Homo sapiens: one gene and its partners. The protein of the gene in region 1 purifies or fractionates together with the protein of each later gene. This does not show direct contact. Each region holds a gene or a part of one and is shown in the gene's direction. Other genes may lie near its edges.

What was found.
Region 2: the proteins of PALD1 (region 1) and CAMK2B purify together in Homo sapiens (affinity purification with mass spectrometry; one large-scale study listed by BioGRID and IntAct). This does not show direct contact.
Region 3: the proteins of PALD1 (region 1) and INTS7 purify together in Homo sapiens (affinity purification with mass spectrometry; one large-scale study listed by BioGRID and IntAct). This does not show direct contact.
Region 4: the proteins of PALD1 (region 1) and TBC1D15 purify together in Homo sapiens (co-immunoprecipitation; one large-scale study listed by IntAct). This does not show direct contact.
Region 5: the proteins of PALD1 (region 1) and UNC119B purify together in Homo sapiens (co-immunoprecipitation; 2 studies listed by BioGRID and IntAct, with this or other methods). This does not show direct contact.
Region 6: the proteins of PALD1 (region 1) and IKBIP purify together in Homo sapiens (co-immunoprecipitation; one large-scale study listed by IntAct). This does not show direct contact.

What each region holds. Positions count from the first base shown.
Region 1 is NC_000010.11:70,537,767-70,541,266, forward strand, and holds part of PALD1 (paladin), read left to right. Parts: intron 1-44; coding exon 45-140; intron 141-513; coding exon 514-642; intron 643-1,125; coding exon 1,126-1,242; intron 1,243-1,325; coding exon 1,326-1,481; intron 1,482-1,813; coding exon 1,814-1,996; intron 1,997-3,335; coding exon 3,336-3,476; intron 3,477-3,500.
Region 2 is NC_000007.14:44,221,095-44,224,594, reverse strand, and holds part of CAMK2B (calcium/calmodulin-dependent protein kinase type II subunit beta), read left to right. Parts: intron 1-3,500. UniProt on the Homo sapiens protein: Calcium/calmodulin-dependent protein kinase that functions autonomously after Ca(2+)/calmodulin-binding and autophosphorylation, and is involved in dendritic spine and synapse formation, neuronal plasticity and regulation of sarcoplasmic reticulum Ca(2+) transport in skeletal muscle.
Region 3 is NC_000001.11:211,980,058-211,983,557, reverse strand, and holds part of INTS7 (integrator complex subunit 7), read left to right. Parts: intron 1-747; coding exon 748-882; intron 883-2,367; coding exon 2,368-2,465; intron 2,466-3,500. UniProt on the Homo sapiens protein: Component of the integrator complex, a multiprotein complex that terminates RNA polymerase II (Pol II) transcription in the promoter-proximal region of genes.
Region 4 is NC_000012.12:71,916,259-71,919,758, forward strand, and holds part of TBC1D15 (TBC1 domain family member 15), read left to right. Parts: intron 1-1,439; coding exon 1,440-1,539; intron 1,540-2,192; coding exon 2,193-2,290; intron 2,291-3,500. UniProt on the Homo sapiens protein: Acts as a GTPase activating protein for RAB7A. Does not act on RAB4, RAB5 or RAB6.
Region 5 is NC_000012.12:120,716,958-120,720,457, forward strand, and holds part of UNC119B (protein unc-119 homolog B), read left to right. Parts: coding exon 1-85; intron 86-2,962; coding exon 2,963-3,075; 3' UTR 3,076-3,500. UniProt on the Homo sapiens protein: Myristoyl-binding protein that acts as a cargo adapter: specifically binds the myristoyl moiety of a subset of N-terminally myristoylated proteins and is required for their localization.
Region 6 is NC_000012.12:98,627,789-98,631,288, reverse strand, and holds part of IKBIP (inhibitor of nuclear factor kappa-B kinase-interacting protein), read left to right. Parts: intron 1-3,500. UniProt on the Homo sapiens protein: Target of p53/TP53 with pro-apoptotic function.

The sequences.
Region 1 (3,500 bases):
ACTGCCTGAGGAGTCTGTCCTTAACACCCTGTCCTCTCTCTCAGGGAAGCGGCAGCCGACACAGCGTCTGGCAGAGGGCGCTGTGGAGCCTGGAGCGATACTTCTACCTGATCCTGTTTAACTACTACCTTCATGAGCAGGTGGGGCCTGGGAGGAGCAGACCCACGTCCCCTCCTCCTGGGCCTCTCCCAGCCTCCCCACCGCAGTGACTGGCTTGCTGTGGAGGGAGACCCCCCAAGGAACCGGGGAGGGAAGGGAGGCCAGGAGAGACCCAGATTCGGGAGTAGTCCCTGAGCAGCTGGGCATAGGGAGGCCCCACCTCTTTCCACCGGGCCCTTGTCTCTGTCCTTAACCAGGACACCAGACGTCCAGGTCTTCTCTCAGCCACTCCCTTGTCCCTGCTCTGGGCCATGTTGGATATCTTTTGGGGCTTCCCCTGCCATGGTGTGGGCAGGGAGGGTTCAGGATGGCCCTGTGCCCCTGAATTCCTCGTCTCTCTGCCTCGGGCTGCAGTACCCGCTGGCCTTTGCCCTCAGTTTCAGCCGCTGGCTGTGTGCCCACCCTGAGCTGTACCGCCTGCCCGTGACGCTGAGCTCAGCAGGCCCTGTGGCTCCGAGGGACCTCATCGCCAGGGGCTCCCTAGTGAGTATGACTGGCAGTCGGAGAAGTGGGCATGGCTGTGTACTGGCCCTGGCCCCTAAACACTGGATTCCTGTAGGGTTGGGGTAAGCATTGCCCTTGCAGGAGGTGAAGAAGAGAGGCTGTGGGTGTTGGGATCCTCTTGTGAACAGAATGGGGTCATGCTTAGGCCCCAGCAAGCATTTGCAGCTTTGGCAGCTGTTCTGGTACCTTCTCCTCAGTCTCAAACCCAAGAGCTCTGGGCAGGGTTCTATGATCTTTGCCTCCAGCTTCTTCTCTTTGAGCCTCAGCTTCCTGGTCCAGAGAGTGGGCACCATTGCACTTCTTCTTGCCAGGGCCGGGGGAAGCTCCAAGTGTGCAGGAGTGCTTTGTAAACTGTGAAGCTCGGGTTCCACCCCACCCCCCGTCTGCCTTGGGCCAGGTCCTGACCCTTTCTGCGGCTACAGTCGGCTGCTGTGGGTCCCAGGCTTGGTGCTCTCCCCACAGCGGGAGGACGATCTGGTCTCCCCGGACGCGCTCAGCACTGTCAGAGAGATGGATGTGGCCAACTTCCGGCGGGTGCCCCGCATGCCCATCTACGGCACGGCCCAGCCCAGCGCCAAGGTGACCGGCCCTCAGGGCCTGGGTCCCCCAGTGGGTTTGGGGAGGGAGGGCTGAGCACTCACTGCCGGCCCTCCTGTGCCCAGGCCCTGGGGAGCATCCTGGCCTACCTGACGGACGCCAAGAGGAGGCTGCGGAAGGTTGTCTGGGTGAGCCTTCGGGAGGAGGCCGTGTTGGAGTGTGACGGGCACACCTACAGCCTGCGGTGGCCTGGGCCCCCTGTGGCTCCTGACCAGCTGGAGGTGAGGCCCCCTGCCCTCTAGGCACCCCTGCCTCCGAGGCTTCTGGGGAGTGGCCTGGGAGGGTCTTCAGAAGGCCTCACACTCCCGCAGACAGATGGAGAATCTGAGGCCCCGGGAGGAGCAGTGTCAGGGAGTGGCCAACTCAGGATTCCCACTAAAGTGCTCTGCTAACCTGCTTGGCTTTGGGGGGTGGCTGTGACCCCTGAGGCTTGGGGGGGTCAGGGATGGGACTGGAAGCCAGGGCCAGGCCTGGCCATGGCAGGCTGTGGCCTTTCAGGGCTAGCCTAGAGCCTGCCCCAGTGGCCTGTGTCCTCCCTCCTGCCCTTGCCCAGACCCTGGAGGCCCAGCTGAAGGCCCATCTAAGCGAGCCTCCCCCAGGCAAGGAGGGCCCCCTGACCTACAGGTTCCAGACCTGCCTTACCATGCAGGAGGTCTTCAGCCAGCACCGCAGGGCCTGTCCTGGCCTCACCTACCACCGCATCCCCATGCCGGACTTCTGTGCCCCCCGAGAGGAGGTGAGGGTGCTGCTCAGGCTGAGGCCTCTGGGGAGGGACAGGAGGCCTCCCTGTCTCCCCTCTGGTCTGGGCTCTGGGAGAATGAAACGACCCCAGCTTCTCTACGGGGCCCGGGAATGGTCTCACGAGGTTTTCCGATTTGGCCCAAGTGGTTTATTCACATTCCTTCCAAGCTTTGTGTGTGTGTACGTGTGTTTATTATGTGTTATAGGGTATATGTGTGTGTATTGTTATAGGTGTGTGTGTATTGGAGTGTGTATTCTGTTACGTATGTGCATATGTGTTATAAGATGTGTGTACATGTGTTTATTATGTTGTAGGGTGTATGTGTGTGTATTGTGTTATGGGTGTGTGTTATAGGTGTGTGTGTGTTATCGGGGTGTGTGTGTATTCTGTTACAGGTGTGTGTGTGTATTTGTTATAAGGTGTGTGTGTGTGTTGAGGGTGAACATGTCCAGGGTGTCCGTGGTGTGTGTGTCTCAGTTGGGGGACTGTGTATGGAGTGTGTGGGTGGTGTGTGGAATGTGTGTGTGTGTGCATGTCTTTTTATGGAGTTTGTGATGTCTCCCTTGTCTGTATTGGGGGCTGTGTGTGGAAAACCATCTTTAGGGGAGTGGTGTGGTGTGTGGTAGGGTTTGTGGAGGGGTCGTTAGGAATGTGTGTGTGTGGCATCTGTAGGTCTGTGACTGTGGGTGTCTGTATAGTGTGTGTGTTTACCGGACGTGGATCCCTGTGTGGTGCGTGTGTCTGGCGTGTGTTGTAGGTGAGCCACCGTGTGCGTGGTGCGTGTGTTGTAGGTGGGTCGCTGTGTGCTGTGTAACTGGCAATGGGGTCTGTTACCCTGCCTGAGCCCCTCCTGGCGCATCTCTTCGCGGCTCTCACTGCCTGCGGTCTGCTGCCTCCTGGTGGCCTTGTGCTGCAGGGCTCTTCTGAGGTCAGGCCCCCGTCCATGGTGGGACCAGGGCTGGGTCCAGCTCAGGTGGGTGGCAGGGCCAGCAGTCTATGTGCAGCCCAGGGGCGCAGTACACAGGGGTGACATACAGGTGCATGTCCTGCCTGATGGAGGGTGGGTACCTTGAGCCCCAGGTGCATGCTGTGTTGGCTCACACATCCTGTCCAGGTGCTTGGTGTGAGGGTGATTACGACTGCACAGGTGCAGCTGTTTACACGCACATGGTCTCATGCACCCCGGTGAGTTTTGTTTGTGTGTGCAAGCTTGGGAGCCTGACAATTTCTGGCCCGAGGACAGTGGCTGGGGCTGCCATGTGGATGGGGACCCTGTTGGGGTTTGTGCATCCAAGAGACGCCCGCTGACCCAGACCTTGCTTTTCTCGTCCAGGACTTTGACCAGCTGCTGGAGGCCCTGCGGGCCGCCCTCTCCAAGGACCCAGGCACTGGCTTCGTGTTCAGCTGCCTCAGCGGCCAGGGCCGTACCACAACTGCGATGGTGGTGGCTGTCCTGGCCTTCTGGCACATCCAAGTACGTGTGGCCTCTCAAGTGAGA
Region 2 (3,500 bases), on another chromosome or scaffold:
GCCTGCCTGGACCTGTTGCCTCACCCCAAGAGAGCCACAGGCAATGCAAAGGCTCCTGTTCATGTCAGGGCACCTGGAAGGCCTGACTTGCAGAGGCTCTTGGCTCGTGCAGACCCCTCCAAGCCCAGGCCCTGCCCACCACCTCCCCTTTGTCTCTGGAACTGCCAGGACAGCTTGTCCTCAGCCAGCAGGTTTCCCGACCCGGGCACCTCTTCATGTTGGGCCCCCCTCCTTTCCCTCCATCAGGGATCATGCCCTTCTTCAGGGGCCTGGATATCAAGGACACAAAAGCTCCCATGTGCTATGTGGGGAGGCAGAGTGGGGGCTGGGTTGAGCTGGGGTCTGGGCAGCGCCATTCCGCAGGGCAGGGGCAGCCTAGGCTTCCCATCTGTGGAATGGGTGGGTGGGTCTCACAACGGACCTGCTTCCCGTACTTCAGCACGGTTACCACTCTTGATTGGAACTCTGACCATGCATCTCCTCTTCTGTTTACTTCACGCTTTCTCTTCCCATCAACTCCCATTTTAATTACAATTTGTTTAAAAGCACTGCATATTACTTCATTAAACAGAAGATTAGTTTCACTTACCATTAGTGTAAGGTGACTATAGAACCAAAGCAGACTGGAAACCAAATGACATAATGTCATTCTCTTCTCCATTCCAGCTGCCTGCTGCTGTGCGCCTGAGAACCCCTGTGGAGTGGGAGGGGCAGCTGTCTCTGTACATTAGAAAGGGAGGTTAACTAAGTGACAGGAGGTGTTTGGGACATGTGGACACCAGACTTCTCTCTTGATGCAAGGAGGGCAGAGCCAGGCAGCCTAGTGGGGGCTGGCTTGGGGGCTGCTGGAAGGACTGGCTACAGGTGGAAGAGAGGTCAGACCTGAAGCTTGGGGCCACCTCCAGGAAAGGACAGGTGAAAGTGGAGGCATGAGGCAGGGGAGAGGCAGGTGCCAGGCAGAGGGTGGAGAGGAGGCAGGAACATAGCAGCTGGGGCGGGGGCGGGCCTCAAGTGTCATATGCTACTTTCCTGGGGCCCAGGGGCAAGGACAGGAACAGCCACAGCATGTGTTGGGACAGAGCCCTGTGCCTTCCTAGAGCTGGGCAGGTGGAATGGGGCAGGAATGGGACTCGTGGTGGCTGCAGCAGGAACTGGAGGGGAAGGGGCTTCTGGATCCTGCAGCCTACCTTCCTAGAGGCCAGCTTTCCGGGGTCCACCAGGTGGGTGGGAACTGGGCTTGTGTAGCAAGACTGCCCTGAGGACCATCCATGACATGGTCTAGATGAAAGTTAGGAAAGAAAGGGAGACAAGCTGGCAGCAGAAGTACAGCTGGGTCAGGAGCAAGGGCCTTTCCAGATAGGGACAACCCAAGAGTGCACATGTGCCCACGCCACACAACACAGGCACACACGACACGTGCACGCTCATAGGCACTGCACACACACATGCACAGGTGCTCATGCATATGTATGAGCTTCATCTACACACATTCACATGCCGTCCTGCTTATGTGCATGTTTCCATACATGCACATGAATGCACAATCACGTGTACACACATGCATGTGATCACATACATGAACATGTGTGCACCCCACTCCTCAGGTGCCATCGGGCTCCTCCTGCTGTCACTGTGCAGCAGGGGACATGAGGCCCCAGAGCAGACAGGTGCAGCACAGGCGTTCCCAGGCAGTGCCCCACACACATGCATGAGCACACCCGGGCATGTGGCGCCTCCTTTGTGGACTCAGTCACCTGCCAGGTGGGCTCCCTGGTGGTGTGAGCTCCCAGAGGTCTGGCGAGAGAGATAAAGGCAACCCCACCACCAGGCGTGCTGAGAATTCCCTCTTCTGGCTGGGCACAGTGGCTCATACCTGTAATCCCAGCACTTTGGGAGGCCGAGGTGGGCAGATCACTTGAGGTTAGGAGTTTGAGACCAGCCTGGCCAATATGGTGAAACCTCATCTCCACTAAAAATATACACACACAAAAATTAGCTGGGTGTGGTGGTGTGCACCTGTAGTTCCAGCTACTCGGGAGGCTGAGGCAGGAGAATCGCTTGAACCTGGGAGTCAGAGACTGCAGTGAGCCGAGATCATGTCACTGCACTCCAGCCCGGGTGACAGAGTGAGACTCCATCTAAAAAAAAAAAAGAATTCCCTCCTCTGGGAATTTAGACCACAGACAGGTTGCATGTATGTGGCCGTTGGAGGCAGCACTCACAGCAAAGAGTGGAAACGTCACCACAGGGCCTGCCTTCTGGTGAAAATGGTGTCCTGCAGGGCGGGCAGCTGTTTGAGGGCAGGTGTCCCAGGTGCGGCCTGCAGCAGCCTGAGGGTCACAGAGCGCAGTGCTGGGAGTGCAGAGACTTCCCCCACAGGGAGAGTTCCCAGGAACCTGCTTCCGGTGCACTTCTGGGGGTTTGAGTTTTTTCCACGGACGAATTACTTTGAGAAACCACTGTTACTCGTGTGTATAGGTGAGCGTGCGTGTGCATGTGTGTTCTGTGTGTGAGTGTGCATGTATGTGCGTGCCTGCGTATATATCCTCGCAGATACGGCTAGGGACCTCACTCAGGACAGTAGTTCTGCCTGAGGAGAGTGAATGCGGCAAGATTGAGGAGAACACAGGCATCTTCAAACTACATGTGCGGTGCTTTATTTCTTTAAAAATGCGTCTAAAGCAAATAGGAAAATGTTAAGATTTGAATCCGTAGAGTGTGGGTTCTATTATTCTCTCCACATCTTCCATACGTTTAAAATCTTTTGCAATGAAAATAAGCTGTAGTTAAAGCAGCAATGCAGGCTGCCAGTGAGCGCCCCGGAGGCCAGTGAGGACCAGCATGGCTGGGTGGCCTGTTGGAATCCAAGGGGGGCGGGCAGGAGCTGCAGGCAGGCGCCCGGGAGTAGCCCGGGCATGGGGGTGCGGGGCAACAGGGATGTCTGCAGGGGTAGCATGTGGGCCCCGGACTGCAAGCAGGTGGAGCCAGCCGGATGCGGCTCCTATGAGAAAAGCGGGGAACAAGAGACCACGCTCGTTCTTCCTGCTGCGGGGACAGCCCTGGTCATCGCTCCGGGGAACCCTGCAGCCTGCGCCGCACGTGGCCGCCCCCTGCTGCTTCCTCCTCCCCGGCCTCCGGGTGGCCTTGCTGACGGCTCCTTCTCTGAGGCAGGTCTCTGCCTTCTCGCCTGGTGCCTGCACTCAGTAGCCCCCTCACCAGAGCTGCTGGGTGAAGGAAGCACTAAGAACCCAAGGCTCGGGAGGAGAGTGGGGCCGGGAAGCTGCAGGGAAGCGCAGGGCCAGGCCTGGTGGGCCCAGGGGCTGGCTCACGGGAGGGCAGGAGGGAGACTGTGGCGGACAGCACGTGGGGCCAGGAGGTGACCTCCAAGTGGATTGTGGGTGGGTTTTTTGTCCTCTTTCTGCATTTTCCAGGCATTTTGTAATGTGGATAGAATATTTCTGTTCTTCAAAAATACTTTAGTTAAGAAAAATAAGATGGAA
Region 3 (3,500 bases), on another chromosome or scaffold:
AGCTTATTCAGTTATAACTGAGGGCTTCTCTACTGTAAATTACAATAGTTACAACATGAACCTTGCATTCCAGAATTTCAAATGTGAATTTTAAAAATTGCTGCAATCTATAGCATGGAATTTAAGGTATAAAGCAGAAGAGTATAATAACAGGGGCATTAGAACATGACTGATAAGTTTTATGAACTTAATGGCAAGATTCTTAAAATTTTGGGGCTTTGGGCTTTGATTCCACCTGTAAAAATAGGGTGTGTTAAATCAGATGATCCCAAAATTCTTTCCAGCTCTACAATCACGAATTCATATGAGGTATAAATGTGTGTCAGCAATCTGAGATGGAAAAAAAAAGCAAATTTAAATTTTTTTCTCTTTTCTCTCCTATCTTGAAAGTATGGTTTTGTCTGACAAGAGGCCTATAATGATACCTGTTTTAATCAGAATTCATTTGAACTCTTAGGATAGTTGTTTTGGCTTTTGTACTGTTAGTCAATTTTTATTAATATTTTTTAAGAAATTATACGTTGATTTTAGATCTTAGTCATTACGAAACTGTTGGCACATACCTATTTCAAGTACCTTAATGGAGAGAAATGCTGATATGTATTGATAGTGGGATTGTGGTAGGAAATTTTGTTGAAGTTTATTGTTAGAGACTTTTCTCAAAAATTAAGAAAATTGAACCTATGAGCTGAACTGCTTTTGAACTATTTGAATTACAATTTCTACTACTTTTCTCTGCTTTTTTAGGAAATGTGAGTTCTTCTCCCAGATCTTCTGATTTAGTCAAATTAGCCCAAGAGTGCTGTTACCATAATAACAGGGGCATTGCAGCTCATGGAGTTAGAGTCCTAACTAATATAACTGTTTCTTGTCAAGAAAAGGGTAAGTTTGATCAGGACTGATATTACGTATAAACTTTGGTTTAGACCTTGGACAGAATTCTGTTTGATTTTTTTTTAATCCCTTATTTTTAGCCTGTGTGCCTTGATCTACAAATTGACTCCTTTCAAAGTGTTCTTAGAGCATGTGTTCTTAAGACTACTTTATCCTTGTGAAAAATAATAAAGAGATGAAGACCTTGGGAGTGGAATTGAAAGGTTTTATGGAGCATTGCCCATTTCCTTCCACTGCTTACCTTTGCATATATGGTGCATATATGGTGGATAAAGATTGCTTAGGACTCTACCCCTTTTGTATAAGGTGGTATGTTCACTTATACAAAAACCTAGAAAATTTACTTAGGTTCTCCAGGGACTTAAATAACAAATAGTTTCACCTAGAGGCAAGTGAATTCACAGACCAATGTGAATTAAATTTTCACAGAATTTACTCTAGGTATATGTGGCATTAAACTGACTTGCATAATCAAGGAGGACATGCAAGGAAAATAATGCACATATTTTGTTGTCTACCTAACATCTTTTGACTTGTGTTCAAGAACAAGAAATGCATTTTGGATATTCCATCTGTTTCAGTGCTGATTTTGATCTTCATTAAGGATTACAAGCTCAGTGGTTCCTCTTATCCCCCCTAGCCTTCAGCACTGCTTGTTCCTAGTACCTGTTTTTTTCTAGCAACCTGACCTTCACTAGCCTTTACTCTGTTTGCCAAGCTCCTGCACTCAGGAAACATTTCTTAAAGTTGAAAGTTGATTCTGATTTGGATAATTAAGCCTGTTTTATATTGGCATCACAAAGAGTATTTTCTTCCATGTAACACAGAAAACTGCTGTATGTTCTCAACACTGAAATATATTAACCTAAAGGTAACTAATATATTCAGAACTTTCTAAAACCTTCAGAGAAATTTTAACCCTATGGTAGTGAAAAGATGTTCTAGTGCTGCTATTTCATGAGACATCTAAGAGGTTCATTCTTTATGGTCAGACTTAAAACAGTAATAAGGTTATGTGGAGACCTTATTATTTCCTAAAAGTGGTTCAGCTTTCATTAGAAGCTGAAAACTGTTATATCTTAGGTAAAAATGGACCTGCATAATTTATTTCTGATTAGGGAGATTAACACATACTGCATAGTTTGCTGTTCTTAGTATTTTCCTTAGCTAAGCTGGTGACACTATTTCAGTTTTGCTTTATTTATAGCTTTGTGGCTTTAGCTCTTGATTTAATGTGTATATTTTTATAAATACTTCAATAAAGTGGTAGAAATAAAGTCTGAAGATAGACTTTACATTCTAGAAGTAATGCCACATGTACTTTTTCAAGGAAGGTTAGGTTCATCCATTTAATAATTCCCTATATCTTAAACTCCTTAATGTTTTTTCTAAGAGAGTGTGTATGCATGTATATGTGTGTGTGTTTGTACACACATCACTTGACCATCATAAAGTTTACTGTTTTTCTTCTAGATCTTTTGGCACTGGAACAAGATGCTGTCTTTGGCCTGGAATCCCTACTGGTACTTTGTAGTCAAGATGATAGTCCAGGTGCTCAGGCCACTTTAAAGGTGAAAACTTTTATTTATTAAGTTGTAATAGATATATATGATGGTCTTAGGCAATAGAAAGCAAAGTTAAGCAGACATAGCTCCTGTACTCTTAGAAGTTTTAATCTAAGTGATTAAATCTAACTGATAAAACTACACTGATTTAATCTAACTGATAAAACCACAAAAAAACTGATGACATGACTGCAGCCGACTCATAAATGTTCATTAATTTAACATAAGCGTTCATTAATTTCCCAGTGGTATAAGCCCTAGTTTATAAGCCAAGGGAAGAATATTTTAAGGAATTTTCACCTTCACTTAGTTACAGAAATCATCTTAGAGATATGCAAGATTTTTAAAATGTGAAATGAGGCCAGGACAGTGGCTCTCATGCCTATAATCCCAGCATTTTGGGGCGGTCAAGGTGGAAGGATTGCATGAGCCTAGGAGTTCAAGACCAGCCTGGGCAGCATACTGAGACCCCATCTCTAGAAAAATTTTTTAAAATTTAGCTGGACATATTGGGGCACACCTATAGTCCTAGCTACTCATGAGGCTGAGGTGAGAGGATTGCTTGAGGCCGAGAGGTTGAGGCTGCAGGGAGCCATTATTGCACCACTGTTCTCTACCCTATGTGAAAGAATGAGACCCTGTCTCAAAAAAAATAAATAAATAAAATGTGAAATGAAACTACTCTTTTTGGAGTGAAACGTGAAATATAATTTGTGATGGTGCAAAATTAATGAGGAGAAGCATAGTTAATAGAAGTAAGAAACTGTTAGATAAACATTGGCGTTAGCTTGTCTAAGGTGTGGTTTCAAGGAAGTCATGGCTCATTTTAGCAGGTTAAGGAAAGTTGTGATATGGTCATAGTGATGAACAATAAAGATAGTAACATCATTAAGTGACAGCTAATAAGAAGTAGAGAAGGGAAGTAGACAACATGTGTTTGGCAACACATTCTGAGGGGGATCCTCAGAATCCCCTTGGAACCACAGTACATTTAAGACTTTTTTTAAAAGCAAATCTTTTTTCCAACAATTGTGGGTGTCA
Region 4 (3,500 bases), on another chromosome or scaffold:
ACTTTTTCGAATATGGTGTCTGTCATTATGGACATGTTTCTTTTTTACAGCAGAGTGGGTAGCAAATGTCTATGCCATGTTGGTATTCCCAGATCAGCTCTAGTCTTTGACTGTGTCACAGCAAAAATGATCCTGTTAATCAGAGTTGATTCTGCCCCTTCTCTATAGATCTCTCTGGTAAATGTGGAGGAACTATATCCTAAAGCCTTGAGTTAGTCTATTAATAAACTGGTTTTTAAAATTCATTAAAGAGAAACAGCTTATTGAGAATTAATAGACTTAAATTTTTTTTAAGAATGAATTGTTTCTAATATGATAGTTCTAATAAAGCACTATTGTACTGTAAAAGTGAAAAAGTAAGTGTGAAGGAGGAAATGTTTTTCTAAGGCTTTCACTAGGGTTAGGGCGGTAGGTTACCACAGAGGGATCGGGACATATGAGTTAAAGGGATCCAAATCATTTAAGAAGCCTTTCAGAGCATCAGTTTTGGTGCCTTCTGGCCCCTTGACTCAGGTGTTGGTAGGGAGTCTACTCAACTATGAAGTTTCTTTAAAGCATATGAACCCCAGCAGTTCCCAAACTTTGTGACCTCAGGGCCCCTTCACACTCTCCAATATTATTGAAGACCTGAAAGAGTTTTTGTTTATGTGGGTTATATCTGTTGATGTTTATGTGAAAAATTAATACTGAGAAACTTGTATTCATTTATTTATTAATTCATTAAATAACAACACATTCTACCTTAACATAGATCACTTTTTTTTAATGAAAAGTAACCTTTCCTAATGAAAAATTTACCGACACAAGAGATTGTTTTAAATTTTTCATTTTTAAAAATGTCTGGTTTAATAGAAGACAGCTGAATTTTCATATTTGCTTCTGTGTTCAGTCTTTTGGAGTATCACACATCATACAGCCTTTGCACTTGTGAAAGAATTTAAGTATGAAATCCAGATAATGTTTTAGTATTGTCCTGAAAATGGTTTTGGCTTTACAGATTCTCCAATGTAAAGTAATTCTTTAAAATGAAATACATACTAAAACTAAAATTAATTTTATTATGTATAATTTGAAGGAATATTTAACAATGGAAAGAATTTGATAAATATTTATTTCCCAAATGTGTGTTTCTTTCACCAAGTCTTTTATGCTGTGTAAGAAATAAATAGTCAGTCTGCAGTTGCTATGTCTGCATTCTTCTTTATCTAAGTCAAATGAATAGAGGAAAAAATAATCCTTAGTTTTGAGAGCAAGGATTCTTTCTCTTTACCCTCCCTTTTAGTGTTACGTTAGATTTTTGGTTAGTTACGCATTTTTTAAGATTACCAGTGTGGTATAAGTTCAGCATTTGTCCTTAGACATCATGTTTTAGTTATCAGTCATTATGTACTATAAAATATTTATTAAATATTACTTGTAACAATTATTTCCTTTTAAAGCATCAGAATTTTGAAGAACAAATGCAAGGCATGAAGACCCAGCTAATTCAGCTGAGTACCTTACTTCGATTGTTAGACAGTGGATTTTGCAGTTACTTAGGTAAGTTTAGTGAATCAGAACTATACCCAGCAAATTGTAGAGTAATGCATAGAAAAAAATGTAAAGAACTCTTTAAAGAAGCCAGGTGCAGTGGCTCATGCCTATAATCCCAGCACTTTGGAAGCCAAGGAGGGAGGATTACTTGCACCCAGGAGTTTGAGACTAGCCTGGCTAGCACAGTGAGACCCCATCTCTACAAGGAAAAAAAAATGCTGGCTGTGGTGATGCATGCCTGTAGTCCCAGCCACTCAAGAGGCTGAGGTGGGAGGATTACTTGAGCCGAGGAGGTTGAGGCTACAGTGAACTGGGATCACTCCACTGCACTCCGACCTGGGTGACATAGCAAGACACTGTCTCAATAAAAAAGAACTTAAAGACATATATACTCTATTGCACTTTCTTCGGTTCCATAAAAATGTGGAACCAAACTCTCTTTGTATAATTCTGCCTTAAACTTGATTCGTAAAATGTATTATTTGTTAGTTTTTAAAAAGAAGTCAGCCTTCAAGTTTGAAATGATTCCTTAACGTAGAAGACAAATGTATAGGGCCTTGAATTGCCTAAGATGCATAGGAAAGTTAGAGAAAAGTAACTGTATTCTGACATAATTAGCATAAGAGTAAGTCATATGTGTGTTTTTTTCTTCTGCATAGAATCTCAGGACTCTGGATACCTTTATTTTTGCTTCAGGTGGCTTTTAATCAGATTCAAAAGGGAATTTAGTTTTCTAGATATTCTTCGATTATGGGAGGTAAGTCCTTAAATTATTATGCAAATGTGATATTTATTATGAAAAGAAACAATTTATTCTGTAGAGTGTAAATGAATTATGATAGCCTTACTGAAATATCTAAGGCAAGTATGTTCCAAAATTCTGATGAACTGGTAGCCTCTTCTTAAAAATTAGTTTCACACTGAATATTTGGTCTTTTGGAGCTTCGTTCTTCAAATCACAATCTCTGTGAGATTTGGGGCCAAGAGGTATCCCAGAACAAGTGCTCTAGACCATTTGCTGCCTTTGTTCTTCCTTTGTGAGACTTGACTTTATGTGAGGCTTTGCCACATCTGTTATAGAGGATATTCTTATGTTTTTGGTGTACTCCTTTTGTTCCATTTTTTACCCAAGGCAACTCTTTATTTTTTCAACTTTTATTTTAGGTTCAGGGAGTACATGTGCAGGTTTGTTACATAGGTAAATTGCATGTTGCTGAGGTTTGGTGTGTGAATGATTCCATCACCCAGGTAGTGAGCATAGTACCCAATAGGTAATTTTACATCCCATGTTTCCCTTACACCATCCCCCCATGTGTAATCCCCAGTGTTTATTTTTCCATGGCAACCTTTAATGAAAAACCAAATCATTTCACATTTTCTAAAGTATTTGCTAATAATAAATCAGTGTGCTTTTTTTTTTTTTTTTTTTAAAGAGAAGGGGTCTTGCTATGTTACCTAGACTGATCTCGAACTCCTGGACTCAAGTAATCCTCTTGCCTCAGCTTTATAAGTAGCTGGGACTACAGGTCTACAGGTGTATGCCACTGTGTCCAGCCCAGTGTGCTTGTTCATAGAATGCTGGTATAATGATTGATCATACCTTAGGATAACAGAAATTCTTCCAAGGAAAGAATTGGGAGATAATCCATTTTGATTGTAAATCCAACTTTATACAGTGGAACTCTAGTGGTCTCTGAGGTTTTTACAGCTGGAAATGGATTCCTATACTATTGATGGCTGTGCTACCATTAGACAAGGCATTGTGCTGATTACAAGTTAAAAGTGGATTACTTTATGCTCACTTCCTCTGTTCTCAGATTAGAAGTAAAACCCACATGGTCTCTATCTGGAATCGTACTTAAATGTTTATCAGTTTTGTTAAATTAGTGTCTTAATTTGGGGGTTAAAAATGGGTTAATGTATTTATGCCTAGTGTTCCATTATTGGAACGCTAAGCATGTGGGAGT
Region 5 (3,500 bases), on another chromosome or scaffold:
GACTTTGATTTTGGCTTCTGCATCCCCAGCAGTAGGAACACTTGTGAACATATCTATGAGTTTCCCCAGCTTTCGGAGGATGTCAGTATGTATCCCCTGACCCTTACAGCACTCTAGATTCTGAGGGCTACAAGGAACAAACCTTGAAACCCATCTGGTCCAGCGCCCTGGCATTGTCTCGTGGCAGTGCTGACATGATGCGTATCTAGTCATTTGACCTCAGGCTTCTCATTTCCTATTGCTCCTGGCTCCTGTTCTAAACTCTGACTCGGCCCGTATGGGAGCAATGAAGGGTTTGTTTGTTTTTGTTTTTGTTTTTTTCCCCTGAGACAGAGTCTTGCTCTGTCTGTTGCCCAGGCTGGAGTGCAGCAGCGCGATCTCGGCTCACTGTAACCTCTGCCTCCCAGGTTCAAGCGATTCTCCTGCCTCAGCCTCCTGAGTAGCTGGGATTACACCACACTTGGCTAGTTTTTGTATTTTCAGTAGAGACGGGATTTCACCATGTTGGTCAGGCTGGTCTCGAACACTTGACCTCATGATCCACTCTCCTCGGCCTCCCACAATGCTGGGATTACAGGTGTGAGCCACTGCCCCCGGCCCTTTTGTTTTTTTCTTTTTTTTTTGAGACGGAGTCTTGCCCTATTGCCCAGGCTGGAGTGCAGTGGCGCAGTCTTGGCTCAGTGCATCCTCCGTCTCCTGGGTTCAAGTGATTCTCCTGCCTCAGCCTCTCGAGTAGCTGGGATTATAGGCACCTGCCACCATGCCCGGCTAATTTTTTGTATTTTTTGTAGAGACAGAGTTTCACCATGTTGGTCAGGCTGGTCTCGAACTCCTGACCCTGTGATCCACCTGCCTCATCCTCCCAAAGTACTGGGGATTACAGGCGTGAGCCACTGTGCTCAGTCTGAAGGTTTTTTTTTTTTTTCTTTTTGAGACGGAGTCTTGATCTTGTCACCCAGGCTGGAGTGCAGTGGCGCAATCTCGGCTCACTGCAAGCTCTGCCTCCTGGGTTCATGCCATTCTGCCTCAGCCTCCTGAGTAGCTGAGACTACAGGTGCCCACCACCATGCCCGGCTAATTTTTTGTATTTTTAGTAGAGACGGGGTTTCACCGTGTTAGCCAGGATAGTCCCAATCTCCTGACCTCGTGATCCGCCTGCTTCGGCCTCCCAAAGTGCTGGAATTACAGGCTTGAGCCACTGCGCCCGGCCGGTCTGAAGGTTTTAATAATACAGGCCATCCTTTTAGATGCCTCCTGTGGGAAGACAGTGCCTAAGGGAGATAAAAGGAGGCCTGTGACCATCCCTGGGACGCTGATCAGATAAAGCACCTCTCCTGTGCACTGTTAGTCATGGTTTTCCATTGTGTTTTAGTCATTGGCCCTTCACTTTTTTCTTAATCAGAGCTAGATGTGAAACTGCAGGCTAAATAGAATCAAGGCCAGAGGACTTCTTTTCCATTCCCTGCAGGATAGAGAGTTGATTGGATAAAGTGTTGAGATAGATCCAGCAGGAAGGAATGGGGCTGTTGTAGATTTTGGGGCAGGAGTGAGAAGGTGGAAATACTGTTTGAGGAAGAGTGGCCTAGACCTGGGGAGGGCACCAGAGGGAGAAGGCTGCTGCCGTGTAGCCTCGGCAAGGGAAGATGGGGACCAAACGAGAGAGAAAGAACAGCCCTTGTCAGTTTCTGCAACTTTGGCCTAGCCACCTCAGGTTCGCATCCTTTGTGAATAGTTAGGGAAAATTCAAGTCATTTATGAGGGTGTGAATAGAATCCTGTGACTAGTGATGCCTGTAGTTGCCTTGCTGGCATCACTGATTGGTCCTCTCAGAATCCCAGGTCCTTAAGAATTGTCATATTCTGAAAACCAGATAACCTTTAATCGTGTGGCAGTACAGTTCCCAGGTAAAATGAGGATTGCTGAGATGTGGGGCAGGGTGTTGACGACAGCATCTGGTTCTGACTTGAACCCCTCTTCCCAAGCTGGCTAGAATATGTAGATACTTGCAAGAAAAGATGATGTATAGTGTTATAAGTTTTACCCATGAAGCCAAATCAGCCTGGAGGGCAATATTATGCATATAAACCGAGTAGTTTTGGCATTGGTGGGTTCAAAGAACTTTAAAAAATCAGTTTCACTTTTTGAGAACTGTGGTGAGCAACAGCATTTCCTCCAGGGGACTCCAAATGGCATGTAATCATTAACTCAAAACTGATCAGAGGTAGTATTATCTTTATTCTCCAGTATGGTTAAAGACTCAAAATGGCATGTAATCATTAACTCAAAACTGATCAGAGGTAGTGACTGTTAATTATCTTTACTCTCCAGTATGGTTAAAGAGGTCTGGGCAATTGCCTGAACAAACAAGACTTTACTTTAGATCCCAAGACAGGCAGACCTATTGCTGAATCATTTGCGAGTTAATACCCAGAAGGTCTCCGGAGAAGGCTCCCTGCCCTGTGTTCCTTGCACTCATTCCAATCTAGGTTTCCTTGGGTTGTCAGGGTTGTGTGTGGAGGTGGGCACAGTGAGGCTCAGATTTCTGAATTTGGAGTGGAATGTCTAGAGGTGGGCCACTGACCAGAGGCCAGGGCTGGCTTTGGTCAGCTGAGAGCACTGAGTAAATAGGTTGGTGGGGTCCATGTTGGGAAGAGGGGTGAGCACATTTCCCTGGTATCTTGGCTGAAGAATCCAGGCTGGAGATGACAGAGGAGGCCATGGTGGAGAGTTGATTGCATCCTTATGTTGAAATGGAGATCATGTTCAGCTGGGGGGCCTCTGTGGTCTCCCCAGCTGTCAAGGGCTGCCTCCCTCTGTTCTGACCTCATCGTTATTCTGGCAGAGTATACTCTGAAGCGCTGGCTTATTTTGGAGGGGATGCAAAGTTTTCTCCCACCTACCCTGTGGGGCAGACTCAAACATAATTCTTTGCTTTTTTCTTCCCCCTTTGCCTGACTTGCAGTTCGTCTAATGATTGAAAATCCTTACGAGACCCGCTCTGACAGCTTCTACTTTGTTGACAACAAGCTGATAATGCACAACAAGGCTGATTATGCCTATAATGGAGGCCAGTAAGTGCTGCAAGAGTAGATAGGGGAGGTGCTTTGCCGCGGCCACAAGATCCTGGCACACGGAGATGATCGAAGCTGCAGTTTGTCAACACACATCTGGAACCTGGCCCCAGGAAGCCAAGGCTGGGGTGGCAGTTTCCTGCGCGCCAAAGGAGCTGCCAAACAGTGCTGTGTTTTCTTCCCCAGTATTTTTTCTTCCCTTTTTTTCCTGCCCCGTAGGTTGCAGAGGTACTATAGTAAAGTAAAAGGTTAGGATAAGGGTCCTGGAATCCAGATAAAAAAGTTTATTTTCCGTAGTTCTGGCTGCCTGTTGGTTGTCTTGACGACCAGGCATAGCTGTGCCTGGTGAGAAGGCTCTGGCCAGGCCCACCAGCAGGTCAGCAGCTCTTAAGGTTCCTGGGTGCTGTGGGAAGCTGAAAGGTAGGCCTC
Region 6 (3,500 bases), on another chromosome or scaffold:
CTTTTGAAGCAGATTTTTAAAATATCATTATAGAATCCAAAAAATATTCAGTCTTGGCCAGGCGTGGTGGCTCACACCTGTAATCCCAGCACTTTGGGAGGCCAAGGCAGGTGGATCACCTGAGGTCAGAAGTTCAGGACCAGCCTGACCAACATGGAAAAACCCCATCTCTACTAAAAGTACAAAAAATTACCTGGGCATGATGGTGCATGCCTGTAATCCCAGCTACTCGGGAGGCTGAGGTAGGAGAATTACTTGAACCTGGGAGGTGGAGGTTGTGGTGAGCCGAGATCATGCCATTGCACTCCAGCCTGGGCAACAAGAGCGAAACTCCGTCTCAAAAAAAAAAATGAAAAGAAAAAAAAGAAATATTCAGTCTTTTCGTAGCTTTTTCTCCCATTCTGCCCTGGGAGTAATTTAATAAGAGGTCCCTTTTCACAAAGGTGGCCCTAAAGGGCAGCATAACCCAGATGGAGGGGAAAACAGCTAGACATGGACACCCATCCCAACTGTGTGACCTTAGACAAATCACTATAACTTATCTTCATCTCTATTTCATCATTTATTAAGTGAGAAATAATAAGATTTTTATAAAGATCAGATGAGATATACAGTAAGTCCTCAACGTCATCAATAGGTTCCTGGTCATCAATAGGTTCCTGGAAACTACGATTTTAAGTGAAGTGTATAATGAAACCAATTTTTTTCTCATCTACGTTGTAATGAAAGGACATCGAAACAACGTTGTTGGAGGAGCTGCTCTGAATAGTTCCACTTAAAGTCAGTTTCCAAGAACCTACCAATGACGTTAAGTGAGGACTTACTTTATATACAAATTCTTTGAAAACAATCAAGCACTAATAAAGTACTAGCTCTTTTTTTTTTTTTTTTTTTTTTTTTTTTTTTTTTTTTGCCCAGGCTCTTGTTGCCCAGGCTGGAGTGCAGTGGGGAGATCTGGTCACTGCAACCTCTGCCTCCTGGGTTCAAGCAATTCTCCTGCCTCAGCCTCCCAAGTAGCTGGGATTACAGGCATGTGCCAACATACCCGGCTAATTTTTTGTATTTTTAGTAGACATGGGGTTTCACTGTGTTAGCCAGGATGGTCTCAATCTCCCGACCTCAGGTGGTCCACCCGCCTCAGCCTCCCAAAGTGCTGGGATTACAGGTGTGAGCCACCGCACCTGGCCCTACTAGCTCTTTCTTTAAGAAAAAATGAGACCCGGTGTGGTGGCTTATGCCTGTAATCTCAGCACTTTGGGAAGCTAAGTTGGGAGCATCACTTGAGCCTGGCAGTTTGAGACCAGCCCAGGCAACATGGTGAGACCCCATCTCTACAAAAAAAATTTTTTTAGTAAATAAAAATGAAAAACGATTAGAATATGTTGGTGGCCCATAAATGCTAGCTACTGTGGCATACTAGTCACTAAATATTTGCAGATTAAATCTATAACATCTTGCACTTACTTGGGGTATACTGCTTTCAGATTATAGTGAGGCTCTGATGAACCTCCTAAACAGGACATTACCTTAGGTGAGGATAAGCTTGCCTCTTCAAAATACTGCTAATAAAACAACTAAACCTAACCATGTTAATGGTTAGTATTTCTCATAATTGATTTTAAAAGGAACTTGTATTATGGCTGTATGTGTACATTTAAAAGAGGTTTTTATTTCTTTGGATTTTTTTGTTTGTTTTCTTTAAATGTGTGTGTGTGTATGTATGTATGTTTGAGACAGGGTCTTGCCCGGTCACCAAGGATGGAATGCAGTGGCATGATCATAGCTCACTGCAACCCTGAACTCTTGGGCTCAAGGAATCCTCCCACCTCAGCCTCCCAAGTAGCTGGGACTACAGGCGCACACCACCATGCCCAACTAATTTTGTTTGTTTGTTTGTTTGTTTGTTTGTTTGATAGAGACAGGGTCTTGCTTTGTGCCCAGGCTGGTCTCAAACTCCTAGGCTCAAGCAGTCCTTCTGCCTTGGCATCCCAACATGTTGGGATTAAGGCGTAAGCCACCATGCCCAACCCTTAAAATAAATTTTAAACAACATTTCAGAGTGGTGTTAGTCATTCTTGTTGCATACTCTTTAAGTCTTGATTGGGGTGGACCTAGAAGGCTTAGGGTCATTCTTCCTAAGCATCAACAAACATATTCTTTGTACTCTGAGATGTAGGGATTACACAGAGGCATAAGACATGGTCTCTTCTCCTTTGAAATTTAGAAGCTTTCACATCTTCACCCTGCTAATTCATCAATCAGTCTGTTAATGATTCCAATTTTGGAGCCACTTCCAGGCCTTTTCGCATTGCCCTCCTAACTTTTTATCTCTCCTCAAAGCATCCATTGCCCCCTGTGCTAATTCTTTTGTGACGCTACTTATAATCTACTGTGATTTTTTTGGTTGCTAGTTTATCTCCTTTACTCCTCTTTAGAGCATACACTGCATCTTTTATCTCCATTTCCCTAGTACCTGATAATGGAACTACCTCACACAGGGTACTCAGTAGATCTTGTTGGGACTCTAGAATATATGATGTGGAAGATCTAAACACTGTCTCCCAATCAAATTGTGAAATCAAGGACTATGCTGTATTTGTCTCCACTGTCTCACACAAGGCTGGCACAGAGTGAACCCTCAAAATTTTTTAATTGTATGTGCTAAGAGGCAAATATGTGGCAAATATATGTGTAATAGGTGCTACAGGAATTCAGGTTGTCAGGGCTAGGGCTATGGAAGAAATGCTGCTCTGAGGAGCTGAGATCCGGTCTGAGCCTTGAAGTAAGGACAATGTAACTAAATAAAGAGGAGAGGAGGATAGCATAGGGAGAGGTTAGAGAATTTGAGACTTTATCCTAGAAGTATTAGGAAACATCAAAGGTTTTGTAACAGTGTACCATGATAGGCATACCAGTTTTTAAAAGCTTAGTCTAGTAGTAGTGTGTAGGCTAATTTAGAGAGCAAGCAACTGGAAGCAGATATTAGATATTACTTTTTCTAAAATACTTTCCTTCATCACTGAAGTCTAGGTTGGGTCTCCACCTGAGTGCTTCCATAGCTCTTCACCTGTCATAGTGCATATACACTTGTCTTTCTCGTCGATTAAACAAAGCTGCTTAAGGGCAGTATTTTGTATCTTGTTCAGTATTATGTCTTCAGCATAATGCTGCAAGCACATAATAAATTAATGATTATTTCTAGGCCTTCCTGTAGTCTCTAAAGCTGTTATCTAAGTGTAGACTAAAAGAGGTCAATGACTTGGCCTTCTATATTCCAGATACAGATTAGGAGGTGCCGGAGGCTTAGCATAATTTACAAATACTTAAAACACTTTACCATTCAATTTGACTTGTCTCACTAAACTGTTTTTTAATTCATTGTTGCCTTTGTATCTGTAAGACCTGATTCTAGTACTTTCTCTGCAAGAGGTTGGTCAAAAAAATTTTTTGGCAGAAACCCTTCCAGAATTATAGGATTTTAGGAAAGATATCAAATTGTA